2 linked regions of the Homo sapiens genome follow. The protein of the gene in region 1 interacts with the protein of each later gene in a biochemical or structural test. Each region holds a gene or a part of one and is shown in the gene's direction. Other genes may lie near its edges.

The links.
Region 2: the proteins of WTAP (region 1) and WT1 form a complex in vitro, tested with the Homo sapiens proteins (one study listed by BioGRID).

The regions. Positions count from the first base shown.
Region 1 is NC_000006.12:159,744,373-159,751,676, forward strand, and holds part of WTAP (pre-mRNA-splicing regulator WTAP), read left to right. Parts: intron 1-3,818; coding exon 3,819-3,997; coding exon of another isoform or gene 3,998-4,001; exon of another isoform or gene 4,002-4,217; coding exon of another isoform or gene 4,218-4,278; exon of another isoform or gene 4,279-5,047; intron 5,048-7,304. UniProt on the Homo sapiens protein: Associated component of the WMM complex, a complex that mediates N6-methyladenosine (m6A) methylation of RNAs, a modification that plays a role in the efficiency of mRNA splicing and RNA processing.
Region 2 is NC_000011.10:32,387,242-32,390,810, reverse strand, and holds the end of WT1 (Wilms tumor protein), read left to right. Parts: intron 1-1,631; coding exon 1,632-1,753; 3' UTR 1,754-3,036; downstream 3,037-3,569. UniProt on the Homo sapiens protein: Transcription factor that plays an important role in cellular development and cell survival. Recognizes and binds to the DNA sequence 5'-GCG(T/G)GGGCG-3'. Regulates the expression of numerous target genes, including EPO.

The DNA.
Region 1 (7,304 bases):
ATCCTTGTTTCTGATTTTAAAATCTGAATGTTTCTTCAATTCTTTGTGTACTCTCCCTTCATTTGGTACATATAGAAGTCTTCTTATGTGTTATTAAAGTCTTCTAAGATAGTATTCTGGTCATTGGAGACACCAAAAATCTATGGGCACAGTCCTGTTCTGTTTCTTTTGCCAATAGAATGTTCCTTAAGGTTCAGTCACAGTCCTTTTACTTCCCTTACAGAGATTGTTTAAATTTCCACAAAAGCACGTATTTACTCTTCTTTCACTTGTTACTAAATGACTTCTTCACATTTTACTTTGCTAAAGGCTGGCTTTTATCATTTTCTTTACTTTTTTTTCCCACTAACCCCCCCGCCCTTTTCTTGAGACAGGGCCTCTCTCTCATCCAGGCTGGAGTGCAGTGGTGTAATCACACCTCACTTCAGCTTCCCGAGTAACTGATTTCAGGTGTGCGCCACCAAGCGCAGCTAATTTCTTAATTTTTGTAGAGATGAGGTCTTCCCTATGTTGCCCAGGCTGGTCTTGAACTGCTGTACTTTGGCAATCCTTACTCCTTGGCCTCCCAAAACTGTTGGGATTATAGGTGTGAGCCATCGCACCTGGCCCATTATCATTTTCTCTACCTTCTTAACACATTTTGTCCTTTTGTTTCTATCAGTTTTGTTGTAATTCTTACCACCACTGATACTTCTTTCTCCATAGTTACTAATGAATGTTTTAACAAATTTCCCTTTACACGAGAAATGGATCTTACCTTTAGACTGCTAGCACTTGGGAGATAGAGTGTGAATAGAAGGTGTTGATGGTAATATCTCATAGGATCAGAATGTCTTGAATTCCATTTCTCTTCCGGATTCCTACTCTTGACATCATAGTTGATGTGTGCACATCACAATGTTTGTGCTATTCATGCACATCTGATTCTCCATCTGTCCTATATGCGCTGGCAGTTTTGATCATATTACGCCTGGTCAAGGCCTTCGGTGATACCTCATCACTCTTGTCTCCTCGACCTGGATTTTAAGGTTATTTCAACTATAATGGAACCTAACCTTTTCCAGCTTTTTTTTTTTTTTAAAACAGCTGTCACCTGCATACGCCAGCTGAACAACTTCCTGTTCTTCCAATTATAATACAAGTGAGGTTTTGCAGACAGGGCAGGGCAGCAGGAGCAAAATCACAAGGAAAGGTCAAGATTATATATGGCAGATGAGGATAAAGTTTCAGGTGAGAGTGAAAAAAGATGAGGTCAGCCTGGAATCTTGGGTATTCTAGAAGAGAGGGGACTACTGAAGAATTCTTCAGCAAGAGATGTATGTGATGGATCAGATTTAGATTTACATTTTAGGTAGATCACTCTGACTTGAGTATGAAAGATAGATTTGAGAGGAACAGGACTTTAAGCAGGAAAACCAATTGTGAGGCTGTTAAAATAGTTCAGATGAAATACATGAAGCCACTGGTGGTAGCAGACAGGACAGAATAGGTGTTTTGGAGGCACAATCAATAGGACTTGTTTAGTTTGGATGCTGTTGTGGAAGGAATGAAAAAAATCTAGGGAGGAATCACAGCTTCAGGTTTGTCTTGTTTGACTGAGTAACGATGCTACTAGGATAGATCCTACAAAGATCAAATTTTAAAAGAAGAGTAGAGTGTGGTGTTAGGAAAACAGGAAATCCAGCATTCCCTCCTCCTTCCCCAAAATACAAAGTGATTAAAACAAAGGCATACATAAAGTTCTGTACAATACGAATTTAAAATTGTTCGTTAGATTTGGCAGTTAAGAGGTTGTTGGCCAAGGAAGCCAAAAGATTGGATACCCCTGCTCTAGAGGAACTGTCAAGTGGGAAGTGAGAGAAACTAAATTTAAAGAGTAGAAAGAATGGGAGTGATGTACTATAGGAGTTTGGAGGGAATAGGTTAAGCGAATGGTTGAAAGGATTGGCCCTGAGAAGGAGGGTTTCTTACCCTCTTGAGTGAAAAATAGTGGAAAGGTTTGTATTAGGTACCTGTCCTTTAAAACAGAGCTGCTGCATTTACCCTTGGTGTTTCAAATTAAGCTAAGCTTAGAAAAAATAAAATATACATCCTTAGGAATCTATTTGTGTAGATCTTTTGTTTGTCCAGCATACTAACTCATCCATTTGATCTTTTAATAATAATGCTTTATTTCTTTGTCTACATGCAGTCTTTGCCAAGTACATCAGTAGTCAATTTAGTTAGTTTTGAGCGTAAGGCATAAATTAGCCACGTAGTTACTATATTCTTAACTATATACTGTATTCTTAACTATATTTTATTTTGTTGGTAAGTAAAATCTGTCATTTTTGTTCACCTCAGTGGTATTTCTGTTTTTCATTTAGTCTTTTGCCAATCAACTCAAAATAGATTTAGGAATAAAACTAACTTTGAAAACACTTTACTCAGTGTTCTCTTCCCTAGAACATGGAATTTATTCTAGTCTGATTCACCTCTCTTTTCATGAATGAAAGTGTTGACTATTGGGTCTTTGTAAAGCTAAATAGTAACTGAGTCTCAGTCAGTGCTGTAGACTGTTTTAATCAGTCCTGTCAGTACATGGAGTGCACTGTAAGTCATGGTTTATTCTCGCTCTGTTATCTTAGCAGCTGGCTTCACATTGACTATGCAGTTGTACTAGATTTTTGCTCAGTGAAACAAATATATTCCCAAACCACTTAGTATATTTGTTCCTTTTACTAAATTTATATTAGAAAATTTTAACTGTAATCCTATTTAAGCCTTAGTATGGAGTTAGATCTTGGGCCAGATCTACTTTGAGTATGAAGAAAATGATGAATTTAATGCTAATAACTATATTTCATATTTTAGAAATGTATTTTTAGTGTGCTAGTAAATAGCACAACTGAAGTCGAAATTGAAGGTTTCATATGTAAGTAGAAGGGTTCTGGTATGGTGGAAAAAGCTCTAGACTGGGAATCAGAAGGCCGGAGAACTAGAATTGTAGTCCCGCTATGGCACTGAACTAAACAGTTGGGTTATTTAATCTCAAAATAAGCAGTTTGGATTAGGTGAGTTACTTTCCAGCTTTACAATTCTATGATTCGGATCTATTCAGAAGGGGAAAAATATGAATTATACTTTATTTTGGCTTAAGGTCCTATAGAGTTTTGCTTTTATAAAGCTGTAACAGCAACTCTTGTAGCTATAAGTACTGTATATTTTTTCCTTTAGAAATTCAAATGTGTATTTTAAGTTATAATCTTGCACCTGATGTATTTTTAGGGGACTTTACATAGAATAATTTCCACAGGTAAAAAATTAAGCAAACCAAAGACTTCATTAACTCTTAGGTAATTAATATTTTAAACTTTGCTTTTTTCCACTGGGTTGTCAGCATTTTTAGTAAATATAATGTTGATTTTCGTTTGTTTTTTGGTAATGTTTGGATTGTAAAGTAAAATGTATGTAGCCACTTTAAGTCCCAGATTTGGAGATGTAATCAAATGGCCTCAATTCCTAAGTGAGTAACCTTAAATAGTTATTTTTTTAATTGACAAATAAGTTTTTTACATATTCAAGGACTACTACATAGTGATGTTTCAATACATATAATGTATAGTGATCAGATCGGGGTAATTAGCATATTCATCAAATAGTTTTTAGTCTGTACTTTTTCTAGAAAGTTTTAAGATTTTTCTAGAGAATTTCAGGATCAAAGAGGGGAGGAGCTTAATGAAAGAGTTGGTAAATCAAGTGAATGGAGGGAGTTTTCCCCACCTTCTTATGTATGTTTCCTTTGATTTGGTCGTAATTGTTTCTTTTGCTTTGCACAGACTCAAATCCAGTACCTCAAGCAAGTCCAGCAGCCGAGCGTTGCCCAACTGAGATCAACAATGGTAGACCCAGCGATCAACTTGTTTTTCCTAAAAATGAAAGGTGAACTGGAACAGACTAAAGACAAACTGGAACAAGCCCAAAATGAACTGAGTGCCTGGAAGTTTACGCCTGATAGGTAAACAAATCATACTCCCCAGTCAAGACTTCCCTGACAGTCCCACTACGAGAAAGCTGTGGTGGGACAGCCAAGTACTCGTTTCCACACCAAGACTCAGACTTTTTGAGCCAAAAAAAAGCCACATTCTTACACTGTCCAGCTTGTAATGGTTAATGTAAAACTTACCAGATGAACCTTGTGTTTCAGCTTTTTTCTTTTCCCCTTCCCCTTGCTTCAGAGGCCTGATGGCGTCGGACTATTCCGAAGAAGTGGCCACCTCCGAAAAATTCCCCTTCTAGAACATGTAGACACTTGAGAAATGTTTCTGTTTGAAGAAAATAGAGGGAGAAACAGAAGTCTTAAGTCTGTGGCACACTGTGTCTTCAGACAGTTTGAAGGAATGAAAACCTAGAGATTTTAAATCATGAATTGAACATGTAAAATTCCAGTAAAATGTAAAAACGGAATATGCATCGCTCTTAACCTTGAGCATAGTGACTTAGAGACACTGTGTATCAGTTTTGCCAATAAGACTGTGGACTTCATGATTGTTGTTGAACTTCTGGGTCAAAACTCAAATGAGGTGAATTTTGCCTTTAAAGGGTTTATTTGCTGAGAACCAACTTTCAATAGTCATGAGAGAATCAAATAATAGATGTCCGTACAAGTAGCGCATATATTTAACCATTTAGTTTGGGGCTCTATATTACTTGCTTGAGCCTTAATCAATGTGGTTTTATTCAATGGTTTGTTCTTTGAATGGTTGCAAAAACTGTAGATAATCTTACTGAGGACTGTACAAACATGAAGGTGTGGTATCAAACTTCAGGTTGAAACTGTTTGAAGCATTATAAACATTCATTTCACAACTAGATTGTATAAGGATATTAGCTGTGATGAGACTCACTGCATTATTTTTTTTAGTGAATTTTATGAAATCCCCGTTCCATTCAACAGGCACATGTTTAAAAGAGCTTTGTCGTTGGTGTTAATGGGGGAATGTGTTCCTTCATTGTATTTGGGCCTTTTGTATTGCACTCTTGATATTAAATTAAATGTGCCTTGAAATAGTTGGTTTTTTTTTTTTTTTAAGTTCAAAGAATATTATGATGATTTTGTTGTACTCTTTAACATTTTAATTTGGGGCGGGGAGGGCCTGTTGAGAGCAGATTCATTTTGGAAATACTGTTGCTGTGCTCTTCAAAGTGAAGGAAAAGGCGCTGTGCCTCATTTTTAAAAGACCTACATAAAAGACAAGGAGACTTGACACTTGTTACTTTTATGACACTTTGTCCCAGGGTATTGCAGTAGAAAGTAATGTGGGACAGCTTCACAGGGTGTCTGCCAGAAGATAATGTGTTGGAACTGTGGGCTGGCCTAAGTAAGACATTTTGTGAATTGAAAAAAGGTATAGTGATCATTTCTAGCAAATTCATTTAATCATTTAGATAAATGAGGCATTATTTTCTTCATGCTTCCATCCAATCCTGGAGGTGAATTTTTTCCGTCAGATCATTCTATAAGTCACCAATTCAAATTTTCGCTTGGTGATAATGGAGTCTAAGATGAGTGGAAGATAAATGTTCCAGCTTGTCCCAACGTTTAAGTGCAGTTTTAACAAGGGTGACTTAAGTTCTCTCTTAATCATTCAAATCAATTGTAAGTATCATATGTTTGTGCTTTAGGGAACTGATTGTGGGGCAGAGGGTGGGTTGAAGAAGTGGTTTGTGTGACTTTTCAGCAAGAAATCTGCTTCTAAAATTCTCACTATTTGTGAGGGTTGGAGGGTAAGTAACCAGATCTGTTTGAAATTAGCTTATGTGCTTGCATTAAGGCTTTTGTAAATATTTTATGCCATTTAAGTTCACAGTAGAAATGGCCTAAGTATCTTTTTAGTAGATTTTAGTAGAAGAGTAATCCATAAAATGTATTATTAACATGTACTCAAATTGAGCAGGCATCTTTCTTTGACACTTAGATAACAGTCATGAGTTCTATGGTTTTTTTCTTGTCATTGTTAAAATTTTCTCTTTTAATAAGATAATACATGCTTATGTATAAAATTGAAATACTGTAGAGAAAGGGGGAGATGAAAAGTGAGTGTCACTCCCGGATGTGACCTTGACATCCTCATTCTCTTCTCCAAGAGCAGTAACTGCTATTACTTTTTCTTGGGTATCATCAAGATAATTTCTATGCATATACAGTTATTTTATGTATATTGTTTTAAACAAATGTGATCATACCATAAACACAGATGAGTTGCACCTTGTTTTTTTTTACTTGGTCTCTTTGGCATTTTTCCATTTTTTAATGTATCTAGACAACTACATTTTTAATGCTTACATAGTATATTTCCGTTATATTAAGGAATCATAATTTATTTGAATCACTTATAAATGGATTTTTTTCTATAAAATTGGCTGTAAGCCAGAGTATATCAGGTACTATAAATACATCACTAATTTGAAACAAATAATGGCTCAGGCAATCCCGTCTGGAATATTTCCAGTGGTGGAATGGGTTTTGCTTTGGGTTGCGTGCACGCGCACGCACGTGTGTGTCTTCGCTTTACTGTTTTTCTGTTCTAATTTTGAGGAAGAAAGATTCCCAGAAATAACCTGTCCAGTTCAGTTAAAATATTTCATTCATGTGAGAATGCACACATTTTAGAGTGTTTAGAGGTATATCTTTCAAAGTGCTTTCTATTATGTTTGTGGGTTAATCGATTTTAGGAATGGGTTGATTTTTTTGTTTGTAATTTTAAAAAATTATTTCAAAAACAACTACTTGTAATTAAATTATTTTTTCAAAACTGTGATTTTGTTAAAATTTATTTTACTAATCACTAGTTTTAAACGTGATATGACTATCTTAGCTTAGACATTTATTTATTAAAAGGTATGACTTTTTAAACGAAACCTTTTTTGCATTAGAATTTGTGACATTTTTATATGGGGTTAAGTCAGGTCACAGATTAATGTATCTTACAGTTGTCTTTTTCTACTCTTTAAAATTCATATAGTAAGAAGGTTAGTTGTAAACACCAATGAAATATATATACTTTGCAAGAAGACAGTTTTGAGAGCATAGGCAGTAAAGTGGAAGGAATTCCATTGTTTTTGACAATCTTGCATATCTCTCATTTTCCCATTGTTTAATTTCTAAGTGGATGTTCAGTGGAGGCTAACGCCTGAGAGTGCTGATGGGAAATGGTGGAAATCTGGAGCTACAGTAGCAGTGAACAAGAACACCAGCTAATAAAGTTATCATATCAAAGAATAAAGCCTTTACCACATGCTCACTGGTGGCTTTCACCCTCGGG
Region 2 (3,569 bases), on another chromosome or scaffold:
GGGGCAGATATTTACTCTGCAGTCCAGGGAGCATGGAGAGTCAAGTAGAGAATCAAAGTCAGCAAAGCTGAACACCACTGAGAGACTGAGAGGAATGAAGATGACAAGAGACAGGGTTGGGATTAGTCCATTAGGAGCCAGCCCTTAACAGCACTGCTGGAGGTGGGGTTGGAGAGTGAGAGCCAGGCCAGGAAGAGCAGAGGAACAGCGAGTGAAGGAAAACATGACATCACAAACCCCTGAGCAGCCCCAGATTCTTCGCCCAAATTGGCTGCATTTAAAAACAGAGCCAAGGCACCTGTGGCCCATGGTTGGCAGGATGGGATCTTGCTTCCCTTCCTCAGGTGCCTTTGATGCTTCTTTAACTTAGTCCTGAGCTCATAATTCGGTGGCAAAGTGTTATAGTCCCTTTGACACGGCTGTCACACTCCCCAAGTAAGTGTGACATGACCTGTTTTGCCAGCAGACTGTTTAATACCACATTTGATTGGCCTCCAGTCTGACCCTGGGACACCAGCCCTCCTGGGACATTTCTCAGTGCTTGTCCAAACCAGTAGTTCTCAGAGAAGGCCAAGTGGGACCAGCAGTATCTGAGAAGATCCGTCAGGTGGCACAGGGTTTAGCTTCTGTGCATTCTTCCTTAAGATGGAGCTGCAGCTGCTTTTCCATCATGGCTAGGCCTGGGAGGTGTGATACAGGGAAGAGCACGGGCTCTGGAATTCGACAGACCTGGAGATTTGAGTTCTGCCTGGATCTGCCCTCAATAGATGTCCTACCTCATCTGTAGAGTGGGGATAATAACGCTTCCCCTACGGGCAGTTGTAAGGAGTACATGAGGTTGTGTGTGTGCGTGTGTGAAGCCCAGCACAAGGCTTGGCATATGTTAAGCATCAAATAAATGGTAGTTATTCTCCCTAATGAGAATGAGGCTTGGAAAGAATGTCTGAGGGCTCTTTGGGTGGAGAAGCCTCAATCTTTTGGCAAGCTTATTAAAAATCTAAGAACCACGCCCCAACTAGAATCTTCCATATAACAGGATTATGCTCTCAGTAACACTTTAAGAGAAAAAAAAAAACAACACATAACATGTAAACTGGTATCAGTGATTTATTTTAAAGTATCCAGCCCATCCAGGGTATCTACACAGATAGAAGTGTTAAAAGCTTCAGTCACAGCTGAGATCCCTGGACAGTGATCACTCAGTAATACCCAGGGTAGATGACCCAGAGGCTTCTGCAGCCCAGTTCATCTCAGTTCCCAACTTACTCAACAAGGGGGAGAAATTTACACAGTTCACAAAACATTCTATCAGCAGAGACTGAAACAAACGTTTTTCCCCTTAATTATGAATTGCTCAGACATTTCCCCCAACTTGACTCATTCTTTATCTCCCACTTTCCAAGTTTTCTGACCTAAGAATATAACTTTTTACAATATTTCGATCCTTAAAGCCCCAAGAGGTGCTGCTGTTTCAAGGCTGCCTGGGAAATGAGCTCAGTTGGTTAGCTCAGGGACAGAATGATGGGAAATTCAGAGTGGGTGCCTTGTGATGACTTCACTCGGGCCTTGATAGTTGAACTTGTGCCTGTCTCTTTGTTGCAAGTGTCTCTGACTGGCAATTGTGTCAACAGGTGAAAAGCCCTTCAGCTGTCGGTGGCCAAGTTGTCAGAAAAAGTTTGCCCGGTCAGATGAATTAGTCCGCCATCACAACATGCATCAGAGAAACATGACCAAACTCCAGCTGGCGCTTTGAGGGGTCTCCCTCGGGGACCGTTCAGTGTCCCAGGCAGCACAGTGTGTGAACTGCTTTCAAGTCTGACTCTCCACTCCTCCTCACTAAAAAGGAAACTTCAGTTGATCTTCTTCATCCAACTTCCAAGACAAGATACCGGTGCTTCTGGAAACTACCAGGTGTGCCTGGAAGAGTTGGTCTCTGCCCTGCCTACTTTTAGTTGACTCACAGGCCCTGGAGAAGCAGCTAACAATGTCTGGTTAGTTAAAAGCCCATTGCCATTTGGTGTGGATTTTCTACTGTAAGAAGAGCCATAGCTGATCATGTCCCCCTGACCCTTCCCTTCTTTTTTTATGCTCGTTTTCGCTGGGGATGGAATTATTGTACCATTTTCTATCATGGAATATTTATAGGCCAGGGCATGTGTATGTGTCTGCTAATGTAAACTTTGTCATGGTTTCCATTTACTAACAGCAACAGCAAGAAATAAATCAGAGAGCAAGGCATCGGGGGTGAATCTTGTCTAACATTCCCGAGGTCAGCCAGGCTGCTAACCTGGAAAGCAGGATGTAGTTCTGCCAGGCAACTTTTAAAGCTCATGCATTTCAAGCAGCTGAAGAAAAAATCAGAACTAACCAGTACCTCTGTATAGAAATCTAAAAGAATTTTACCATTCAGTTAATTCAATGTGAACACTGGCACACTGCTCTTAAGAAACTATGAAGATCTGAGATTTTTTTGTGTATGTTTTTGACTCTTTTGAGTGGTAATCATATGTGTCTTTATAGATGTACATACCTCCTTGCACAAATGGAGGGGAATTCATTTTCATCACTGGGAGTGTCCTTAGTGTATAAAAACCATGCTGGTATATGGCTTCAAGTTGTAAAAATGAAAGTGACTTTAAAAGAAAATAGGGGATGGTCCAGGATCTCCACTGATAAGACTGTTTTTAAGTAACTTAAGGACCTTTGGGTCTACAAGTATATGTGAAAAAAATGAGACTTACTGGGTGAGGAAATCCATTGTTTAAAGATGGTCGTGTGTGTGTGTGTGTGTGTGTGTGTGTGTGTGTTGTGTTGTGTTTTGTTTTTTAAGGGAGGGAATTTATTATTTACCGTTGCTTGAAATTACTGTGTAAATATATGTCTGATAATGATTTGCTCTTTGACAACTAAAATTAGGACTGTATAAGTACTAGATGCATCACTGGGTGTTGATCTTACAAGATATTGATGATAACACTTAAAATTGTAACCTGCATTTTTCACTTTGCTCTCAATTAAAGTCTATTCAAAAGGAAAGTGGCAAGATTCCATCAGCTGTATTGTGTTCAAATCTCAAGGCCACTGAGCCTCTTTTAAACAGGTAAGAGAAGACGCCACCGACATCGACGGCTACTAGTGAGCCTATCCAGGTCCTGACCACAATTTATTTCTCTCTGTCAAACTTCAGGAGGGACTTATATGTCCTAGAAGCAACAGAGAATATCTTCACCTTGTGTTACAGAGTGATTGTGCTCATGCTGTGGTTGAATGGGGTTTGTGGATGATGTGGTGATTATGTTTTAAGGTTTTAAGGTTTATTTTAAGCAGATTGTCATTGCATCCCATCATCCCAGATCAGCAAAAGAAAATAGAGAGATGTTAATGACAACTAGTCCTTTTGAAAAGTTCAGATACATCACTGGGAGGGCATAGGCTGAACACCTAGTACAATTGAATTTACAGCTGTACTTGCTATAAATCAGCTCAGCAGATTGAAAACTGCTCAGCCTTTCCAGGGCAACTGAGTGTGAAAGCAAAGATCTATATTATCTATAAACTATAAACTCTCT